Regions from separate parts of the Homo sapiens genome. Here region 1 is linked to region 2. Evidence: fine-mapped expression QTL. A gene starts in region 2. The other region holds a variant in brackets. All regions are shown on one strand. Distances are between the middles of the regions.

Region 1 (5,384 bases), 400 kb after region 2:
TCTGAAGTTCTTTGTTTTAATAGTTGTGTTCCATCTTTTTTTTGGTACCATCTCAGGAGATGGAAGTTGAAGTTGATATACCCCTTCAGATGTCAAGATCTTTTTAACCAAACAATGTTTTTCTAACACTTTCACGCCTTCCTCATCCTACATTCAGTTGGTGAGTAGTGGGAGCAGGAGAGAGGAAAGCACATGAGATGATAATGCTTCTTCAATTTCCATGGGCGTTTCCTGCTCCGAGAACAAGGGCATATCTGCATGAGAAGGTCAGAGTAACTCAGCCTCCACCCACACCTGCACAAACACGTGCACACTATTCCACAGAGAGCCAAACATCAGTCAATGAGGATGTTTAAAGCGCTGAATCTCCCCAGCACTTTGGGAGGCCGAGGCGGGCGGATCACATGAGGTGGTGAGTTCAAGACCAGCCTGACCAACATGGAGAAACCCCGTCTGTACTAAAAATGCAAAATTAGCAGGGTGTGATGGCGCATGCCTGTAATCCCAGCTACTTGGGAAGCTGAGGCAGGAGAATTGCTTGAACCGGGGAGGCGGATGTTGCGGTGAGCTGAGATTGTGCCATTACACTGCAGTCTGGGCAACAAGAGCGAAACTCCATCTCAAAAAAAAAAAAGCTGACACTAGTGAAATTCCTGTGGGCAGGCATGGATCTTAAGTTGTCTTCCATTGAATTCCATTTAGGAATGTGGAGCTGTAGACACGTGAACACAGAGAGAAATCTCCAGATGAATAATACATGCACCTAAGCCCCTGCATAAATACACAAGAATGGCAGTTACTTAAATTTCTGATATATTGAGGAAATAAAAAGTTAATACCAATTTGCATTACCAGAGACTTGGCTATTGCTAGTTCTGGAAAAAAAAAAGATAAAAAGAGTGGAGTGATGAGATGATAAATTGCACTTTCAACCACTGCAAAGCATTGAATGCGGCTTGTCCTGGCTGCTCTACAGTTACATATTCACCTAGCAAATATGTATCCAGAATTTGCAAAGTACACTGTTAGCCCCATGCTTTAGATGAGTTGGATGCATTTGCATCAGATCAATAGGTTAATGAGGGAATCTCTGACTTTGCACCATGGTGCCCGTAATGAATGTCTGCCTTGTTTCCTGCAGCCAAGCCCCATCCTCTGGTCCTCCAACCATCTTTGAGCAGGGGCTCCTTGCCTGCCCTTTCAGCTTCCCGAGGTCTAGGCTTCTTCTCAGACCCTCATTCTCTCCTCCCAGGTCTGAACCTCAGTCTGAACATCAAGGCTCTGATGCCACACAGGGACCATATAGACACCCACTGGCTGGCACTGCCCCTCAACTCCTCCTGCGGGGACTCCCTTGGTTCCTGTCCTGTCCCCAGGGGTCTGGTCTCTGGGTCCTTTCTGCCCAAATGCAGCTCCCCCCACCACCAGCCAGGGCAAGCGGAAAAGAAGAGATTAGGCAACTCTATTTTGTTTTCCAATCTGTGGTGAGCAGTCAGTTGTTGCTACTTCATTCTTAGCATATGTCTTAGTTGGAATTCTTCCCAAAGCAGACACTGATACAGGGACTTAGGTTGAGGTGAAAGTGGACCCAAGAAATCACAAGTGAGAGAATGGGGGAAGTGAGATGGGGGAAAGAGGAAGTCAACAGGTATGTGTCAAAGGGTGTCTGCTCCTATGTCGCTGGGGCCCACATTCCACTGGGAACCTTCTAAGGAATGATGCATGATGTGCCTCAGAAAAGATGCTCTGTGGGACAGAGACACTGGGCTGTCTGTCCAGGACTCGTCCCTCCCTTTGGCTGAGAGTTGCTTTTGGCAGCATTTCCAAGCTATCTTGCACCAGGCTGAGCATCTTCTGCAAGGCTGGAGAAAGCTCCCAGGCAAAGATGTACAAGGATCCAGGAAGCTTCCAGAGTGCAAAGAAACTGCCCTCCATGGCTCTGGATGGAATCGAAACTCCACAGCTCTGGATGGATTTGAAAGTGGGCTCAGCAGCTGTGGGGCAGGGCACTACCGATAACTGTGACAGCACAAGTTCCCGTCTCACACCTGCTGTTGCCTCTGCCAGAAATGTTCTTCCCTCACATCTGAAAGAGCCTCCCCTTTAACTGCAGGCATCTGCTCAAATGTCCCCTCCCAGTGGCATCTTCTCTAACCATCCTGTTGAAAATAATATGCCTTAAACCCCAGAAAAACATCCCATCATTTCTACTCATCTTGTAAATGATACACATGTGATAGATGTGTGTGTGTGTGTGTGTGTGTGTGTGTGTGTGTGTGTGATCTCTCCCTCTCCAGCAATGTTAGTTCCGAGAGGGCAGGGACCAAACACACAAAGCCTCCTCTACTTGTAGGGTTTCTATTCTGAGGACTGGAGAAAGGGAGAACAGAAATAAAGGAGAAGATAATCATGTGGCTTGTTATAAAGAGATGCGTACTGTGGAGCAAAGGAAAGAGTAGAATAAGGCGACTGAGAATGCATGCAGGCTGGGCAGGGCTGTGGCTTCAATTTTAAACCATGCTGTGAGGGTAAACCATGGGACATGTGACTTTTTTTTTTTTTTTTGATGGAGTTTCACTCTTGTCACCCAGAGTGGAGTGAGTGCAGTGTTGCGATCTCAGCTCACTGAACCTCCGCCTCCCA[T/C]GTTCAAGCGATTCTCCTGCCTCAGCCTCCTGAGTAGCTGGGATTACAGGTGCCCACCACCATGCCTGGCTAATGTTTGTATTTTTAGTAGAGACGGGGTTTCACTATGTTGGCCAGGCTAGTCTCGGACACCTGACCTCAGGTGATCCACCCACCTTGGCCTCCCAAAGAGCTGGGATCACAGGCGTGAGTCACGGCGCCCAGCCAGATATGACTTTTGAGCAATGACTTGTTGAGCTAGACCATGTGCCTGGCAGAGGGAATGGACACTGCCCAGGCCCTGAGTGGGGAGCAGGCCCAGTGTGTTCCCAGAAAGGCCAGGCCGGGAAGTCAGTGTGGGCAGAACACAGTCAGGAAGAGAGTAGGAGGAGAGATGCTCAAAAAGGCCTGGGAGGAGATCATGTGTAGCTTTGAAATATATTAAAAGAGATACGGAGCCGAGATCCCGCCACTGCACTCCAGCCTTGGCGACAGAGCAAGACTCCGTCTCAAAAAAAAAAAAAAAAGAGAGAGAGAGAGAGAGGTACAGTCTCTTGGGATCTACCAGAGCTTGCTTCCAGGAACTCCAGCAGATACTGACATCTGGGGATGCTCACATCCACTCTCCAAATTTACAATCTTTGCATCCAGCAAATACCGTTTTTGAATTTGAGATGCAAAACCTGTGGGTACGGAGGGCTCACTGTAAAATGACACTGAGCTTTACTCTGAGTGTAATGGGATGGCACTGCCTCATGTTCTCTCTAGGAGGGGCCCCCTGGCTGCTGCCACACCCTTGAGTGTGCATGGGGGGATGGGGGATGATATGTTAACTACATTTGTCAACTTGACTGGGCTCAGGGGTGCCCAGATAGCTGGTAAACATTATTTCTGGGTGTGTCTGGAGGATGTTTCTGGAAGACATTAGCATTTGAGTTGGTGGGCTGAGTTAAGAGGATTTACCCTCACCAATGTGGGTGAACATCATCTAATTTTTTGAAAGCCTAAAAAAAACCAAAATAGCAGAGGAAGAGTGAGTTCTCTTCTCTCTCTTTTTGAGCTGGGATATCCATCTTCTCCTGCGCTGGGATGTCAGAGTTCCTGGTTTTTGGGCCTTCAGACTTCTGGACTCTGGAATACAACAGAGCTCTCCTGGTTCCCAGACTTTCAGACTCAGACTAAATCAAAGCATCTGCTTTCTTCATTCTTCAGCTCACAGATCATGGGACTTCTCAGCCTCCATAATACTGTGAGCTAATCCCCATAATAAATCTCCTTTGATGCATCTAGGCCTGTCCTATCTGTGCTGCTTCTCTGGAGTACCCTGACTCATCAAGGGGTCAAGGGTTGAAGCAGGGAGACCATCATGGGTGCACTGCAGAATCCAGGGGAAAGGCCATGGTGGATGAGAACCGGGAGTAGCAGGGCGGCGGTGAGAAGTGGTCAGAATCTGTGTATATTTGGAGGAGGTGGCAAGAGGATTTCCTGACAGATTGGATAGACAGATTGGATAGAAATGAATGGGGCAAAAGTGAGTTAGAGGCTTTGACCTGGAAGGACAGAGATGCCATCAACTGAGATGAACTGGCTGCCAGGGACCCCAGATGTGACTGTGGTTAGAGTGGGGAGGGGCCAGTGCTTATAACTCTGTTTCTGCAGGGATCCCCAGTTCTACTCTGGCACCCCAGTGGTCCACGGCTGAGGAACATCATAAGAAAACACCTTTGGCATGACCATTAGTGCGTAAGTGGCTGACATCTTCAGTAGGGTTCGTGCTGGGGCTCCTCCAAGCAATCTCTCCAGGAACAGACTTTGCAGGACCTGAGATGGTAGTATGGAGGTTGTTAAGGGTCGCAGATGTTCAGGTTTCATTCTGCAGCTGTGTGCCACCAAAACCAATGGGTTACCCAGCAGGCAGGTCACCAGGCAGCCTCTGCTCACCTTCCAAAGCCCAGTAACGTCATGTGATATCAAAGCAATAAGTTAATAATTGTATCTTAATTTGTATACTTTAAATAGGCTTTAAATCTTCCCTTACATATAATAAGATATTAAAATCATCAAAGATAGATTGCAAATTAGTCCACACATCTCTATGTCCACTGCCAGCTTCCTATTCCTCACTGAATTAGTCCATTCTCATATTGCTATAAAGAACTACCTGAGACTGGGTAATTTATAAATAAAAGGGGTTTAATTGACTCACAGTTCTGCAGGCTGTACAGAAAGCATGACTGCGGAGACCTCAGGAAACTTACAATCATGGTGGAAGGTGAAGGGGAAGCAGGCACATCTTACATGGTCAGAGAAGGAGGAAGAGAGTGAAGGGGGATGGGCTACATACTTTTAAACAACCAGATCTGAGAACTTACTCATTATCATGAGAACAGCAAGAAGGAAATCCACCCTCATGACCCAATCACCTCCCACCAGGCCCCTCCTCCAACACTGGGGATTGCAACTTAACATAAGATTTGGGCAGGGACACAGATCCAAACCATATCACATACTGTGATCTACCCTTTCCTGGATGTTTATCACAATTTCCTAGTATGTCTCTATGATGTTCTTTCTGCCCTAGGCCAGAAAGATCCTTTTAAATATTAAATTGTGTCATGACACTCTGTCTCTTCAGAGCTTTCAGTTCCATCTCATTACACTTAGAATTTAAATCTCTCTCTCTCTCTCTCGTCTCTCAAGAATGGTTGAAGAGGCTCTGCGTGGTATGACCCCAGCTCATGCACCTTCATCTCATGGTCCTT
Region 2 (5,384 bases):
ACTTAGCCCAAAAGCCATATGTAGTAGTTTGTTTTCATACTGCTAATAAAGACATACCTGAGACCAGCTAATTTACAAAAGAGAGAAGTTTAATTGGACTTACATTTCCACATGGCTGGGGAAGCCTCACAATCATGGCAGAAGGCAAGGAGGAGCAAGTCACGTCTTACGTGCATGGCAGCAGGCAAAGAGAAAGAGAGCTTCTTCAGGGAAACTCCTCTTTATAAAACGGTCAGATCTCATGACACTTACTCACTATCAGGAGAACAGCATGGGAAAAATTTCCCCCCATGATTCAATTATCTCCCACTGCATCTCTCCCACAACACATGGGAATTCAAGATGAGATTTGGGTGGGAACACAGCCAAACCATATCACCATATATTATTACTTCTGTTTGTAAATTACTTCTGTGAGTAACTCATTTGGACTCTCACTCACTGAGAGGGGAAATAGACTTAACATGATAAGGGAGGGTTTGTTAAAGAAAAATTTGTGGACATATTTTAAAGGCACCTACCTAACAAACAACCTCAGAACCTCAGTGGTTTGAAACAATAAGGTTTATTTCTCACTCATGCTATAGGTTCTTCAGTGATCAGTAGAGAGGTTCTGTTCATTATGATCAGATGCACAGGACAAATGAAAACCACTGTATTGAATACTATAGATCACTCTGGAAGAAGGAAAACAAGCTTTGGAGAGTCTTCAGCCAGCAGTTAAAGACCCCCATCTAAATACCACATTATTAGAATAAATAACAAAAACCACATAACCATCTCAGTATACCCAGAAAAAGCATTTAACAAAATCCAACACCTTTTCATATACATTTTTAAAAAACCACTCAATAAATTGGAAATAGAAGGTAAAGGACATCTACAAAAAACTCCACAGCTGTCATTATAGTTAATAGTAAAAGACTGAGTTATTTTCTCTTAAGATCAGGAATAAGACATGAATGTCTACTCTTATAACTTCTATTCAAAATTTTCCTGAAATTATCCAAGATAATTAGGCCAGAAAAATAAATAAATAGCATCCAGTTTGGAAATAAAGAAGTAAGTCTATTTATATTCAAACATGATATGACCTTGTGTATGGAACATCTTAAGAAATCCACTTAAAACCTATTAAAACTAATAATTAGTTGGACAAAGTTTCAAGATACAAGATCAATATACAAAAATAAATTGAAATTCTATATGCTAAAAGTAAGCAATCCAAAAATGATTTTAAGAAAATATGTAATTATATTTATAATAGCACTCAGAAATAATATGATATTTAGGAATAAATTCTTAAAAGGAAGTGCAAAACCTATGCATGTAGCACTAGAAAACATTGTTGAAAAGAATTAAAGAAGATTTAAATAAATGGAAAAAAATTCATGTTTGTGGATTGGAAGACAATATTGTTCAGATGGCAGTACTCCTCAAATTGATCTATAGATTCAATGTGGTCCCTATCAAAATTCTGGCTGGATTTGTTGTATAAATTGAGAAGCCTATCATAAAATTCATATTGAAACACAGGGGACTTAGAACATCCAAAACAGTTGAGAAAAATAACACATTTAGAGGACTCACACTTTCCAATGTCAGACATTACCCGGGCACAATAATTAAAGAGTGTGGTATTGGTATAAAAAAATGACACACAGACCAGTGGAATAGACTTGAGAGCCGTAAAACGTACCGTTACATTTATAGTCAATTGATATTCAACAAAAATTCCAGACAGTTGAATGAGGAAAAAAATAGGAAAAATAGTCTTTTCCACAACTGCTGCTGACAAGTATGTTTTGGATCCCTTCCTTACACCACACACAAAAATTAACTCCAAATGATCCACAGACCTCAATTAAAGAGTTAAAATTGTAATACTCTTAGATGAAAGTATAGGATTAAATTTTTGTTGCCTGGGTTAGGCAAAGCTGTCTTAGAGACAACACTAAAAGTACAAACAACAAAATATTTTGTTACTACCTGTCTTCCTGATGTGCGTCTAGTCTAGGCTGTTTTTCTTGTTATTGTTACTGAGACGAGAAGTCTTCTTCCGACCGAAGGTTCTTCTCAATCGAAGGGTTCGTGGTCTCACGGCTTCAAGGAATGAAGCCGTGGACGGCAGTGGCGAGTGTTACAGCTCGATTAGAGAGTGTGCTGCGGCAAGATTTATTAAAGCGAAAGTGAAAGGAAAGCTTCCACGTGGGGGAAGGGGACCTGGAAGGGTTGCTGTTTCTGGCTTGGGTATCTTATGCTTACATCCCCTTATGACCCCTGCCCTCTTCCTTTTTCTGTCCTATAGAATCAGCTTATTTTCTATCTGCTTGTGGGTTGGCGGGCCTAGTTGGTTAAAAACATCAGGCTGAAGCTAGAGCTTAAACTCCCTATATGACTGGTTCAAGTTTCAACCACTTAGCTTGCAGCTATGAGTCAGTTTGTCTTAGGGGAAAGTCCCCTTTGATTGGTTGAAGTTTCCATCCCTTAGCTTTCAGCTATGACTCATTTTGGCTTAGGGGAAAGTCCCCTTAGGGAAGTCCCTATTGACCCAGGAAGTCCAGCCAACTTAGCCACTTAGTCCCTCATTACAACTCTTCCCATTTAACTGAATGAACCACTCCTTTTTAAAAAAATCACCACTTTTTTTTTTTTTTTTTCTTAGAGACGGAGTCTCGTTCTGTTGCCCAGGTTGGAATGCAATGGCGCGACCTTGGCTCATTGCAGCCTCCGCCTCCCGGGTTCGTGCCATTCTTCTGCCTCAGCCTCCTGAGTAGCTGGGATTACAGGCGCTGGCTAATGTTTGTATTTTTAGTAGAGATGGGGTTTCACCATATTGATCAGGCTGATCTCAACCTCCTGACCTCGTGATCCACCCGCCTCGGCCTCCCAAAGTGCTGGGATTACAGGTGTGGGATTACACCGCACCTGACCTAAAAATCACCACATATTTTAAAGCACTATTTGTCTCAGGGCATTGTGGGATTTCAGTGATGAACTGGATTTAGCTTTTAGGTTGAACAGGAAACGTCAATAGAATTTTCGGTTTTCATGTCAGTGCAGATCTCGCAAAATAAAAATAAATGTGGCATTGGCTCTAAGGGCAGGGCCCATACACTAGTCCAGGCTATTCTGTAAATGATTAACACATCTCCAGGAGGAGATTGCCGCCCCAGAAACACCAATTCTGCTAAATACTGAAAGCAAATCTCACACTTGGGTTCTTGAGATCCCATAGAGTGTGGCTTTGCCATTCTAATCTCCTGGGGAGAGGGGAGATGTGGCAGGAAGAGACCACTGCACAGAAGACTCCTAGGCTGATAAGAATGTGTGAAGATGACCTGCAGATGAATATGCAAAGGAGAGTGCATGGAGACCACCAGCAGAGGACTAAATTAGAAGAAACAATCTGGAAGGGTGCAGGCACTGGTTTGGCTGCCATTAGTCTGAAATCCATACAGGAATTCAGAGGGGAGACACATGTTGCTAGAGAGACCAATTCAGGGCTAGAGAGAGGCAGAAGTGAATCTTCAAAGACAAGAGCTAAATTTTCAGCTGTAAGGAAGGAAAGAGATATTATACCAAGGTGCCTTGATTCTGATGGTCATGGTAAGTCATTCATTCATTCATTCATTCATTCATTCATTCATTCATCTGTTCGTTCATGCAGATTGTGGTGGTGGCACACAGGAGTTTAGTTTCAGACATATTAATTTAAAGATGCATAGTAGATATCTAACTGGAGACAGGTATTGGTAGTTGGATGGAGGAATCTTGAAGTAGGAAGAAATATTCAGGCTGAAGATATGAACTCTGTGATTTTTATTCTTATGTTTTTAAACTATTAATATATACCTTTTTCTGAAATCAATGAATTTCCCCAAGCAACTCCAGACAGATGTCTGGGGCCTCATTTATTTATTGGTTTCATAAATCTGAGCCCTCTTTGATTTAGCGTTATACAGCCAGCCCATCCCGGGCCTGATCTTTGCCATCCTAATCATGAACTAAGCCCCTGCCATGTAATTGTGTGTCTACTCCTCTGCCTCCGGGGATTGTAAGTACAGTGTTCTTCTTTATGCATCAAGATGTTATTGCTGAGATGTGAATCATGCAATTGCCAGGAGGGTCTCTGATCCCAGCTGCAACTTCTCCATTGAAGACTAGCACGCCCTACAGGGGGTTCAGAATAAAGGGAACCTCTTGACCACCCCTGAGAGCCCAGCCAACCAGCAACCCCAATGCATGAATATATGGCCATGACCTCAGTAGTGATTGCTCTCTCTTGGATAGGCCAATCTGTCTTCTAGAAAGTTAAAATTCTTCAGTTAAAAAGGCTCATGTGGTGCAAACTTGTAAAGACAAGAGGGGGGAATGTTTCACATTCTAATGATCTGTTTTTGAAAGTAATTTGAGGGTCCTTATATAACTCTGCTTTTTTTATGTTCCCACTGGATGTGCAACTATGTCATGCACGAGGCTGGGGACACCGAATGAATGAATGGAAAGTCAGTGAATAAATGACTGGGTTCTACGTAGACTCTGCCCCACCTGGGATCCAGTGTCTCACTGAGCAGCTGGTGAAACCTGATGCCTCCACTTCATACCTCTGTGACCTCCCTACTCCCCAGTTGCCTCTTCTAGCAGTAGACATGATAGACTTTCACTTGCTGGCCTCATTAATTCCAAAGATGACCTTGTGACTATGTCTGGCCAATGGTTTGCTAGCAAAAGCCAACCATCCCTCTTCTGGACTTGAGCATTTAAATCCCAGTGTCAAAACTTCCAGAGCTCTTCTTTCCCTTCAAGTCCAAAACCAAATAATCTAAATTTAGAATGGCATGTATAGTATGTATTACTTATGTAAAAATGGTGCAAAAAAGGGTGCATAACCATGTAATTGCTTGTAGATATATAGGATATTCTAAGGAAAATCAATAATAAACAGTAACATCTCGATCAAAATATCCCAACGCCAGTCCCAGATAAACGCATAAACATTTACCTCTAGAGCCCCAAATAATAGTTTCCCAGATGTGACTGCCTGCTCACTGTGTATATTGACAGAGGTTGTTGAAGTATTTCTTTTTTTTTTTTTTTCCGAGATGGAGTCTTGCTTTTCTGCCCAGGCTGGAGTGCAGTGGTGCGATCTCGGCTCACTGCAACCTCCGCCTCCCAGGCTCAAGTAATTATCCTGCCCCAGCCTCCCAAGTAGCTGGGATTTCAGGCATGTTCCACCATGCCCAGCTAATTATTTTTGTATTTTTAGTAGAGATGGGGTTTCACCATATTGGCCAATCTAGTCTTGAACTCCTGACCTTGTGATCCGCCTGCCTCGGCATCCCAAAGTTCCTGGCTGCAGTATTTCTTAAGTCAACCAGAAT

Evidence for each region. PIP is the estimated chance that this variant, and not a neighbour inherited with it, causes the effect.
Region 1: its variant is the best candidate, but not a certain one, in a credible set for the expression of LINC00944 in whole blood (INTERVAL, PIP 0.83).

The regions. Positions count from the first base shown.
Region 1 is chr12:127,169,168-127,174,551 of GRCh38, forward strand. The region is part of intron 1 of LOC105370062 (a long non-coding RNA gene); the gene reads right to left. Among named protein-coding and RNA genes, the nearest start is that of LINC02405, 110 kb to the left of the region's middle. The variant T/C (reference allele first, on the strand shown) is at 2,644.
Region 2 is chr12:126,770,090-126,775,473 of GRCh38, forward strand. LINC00944 (long intergenic non-protein coding RNA 944) reads right to left here and starts at 2,173. Exons shown (of 5, transcript NR_033878.1): 1 at 1,990-2,173. RefSeq lists enhancers at 1,747-2,946, 2,422-2,501.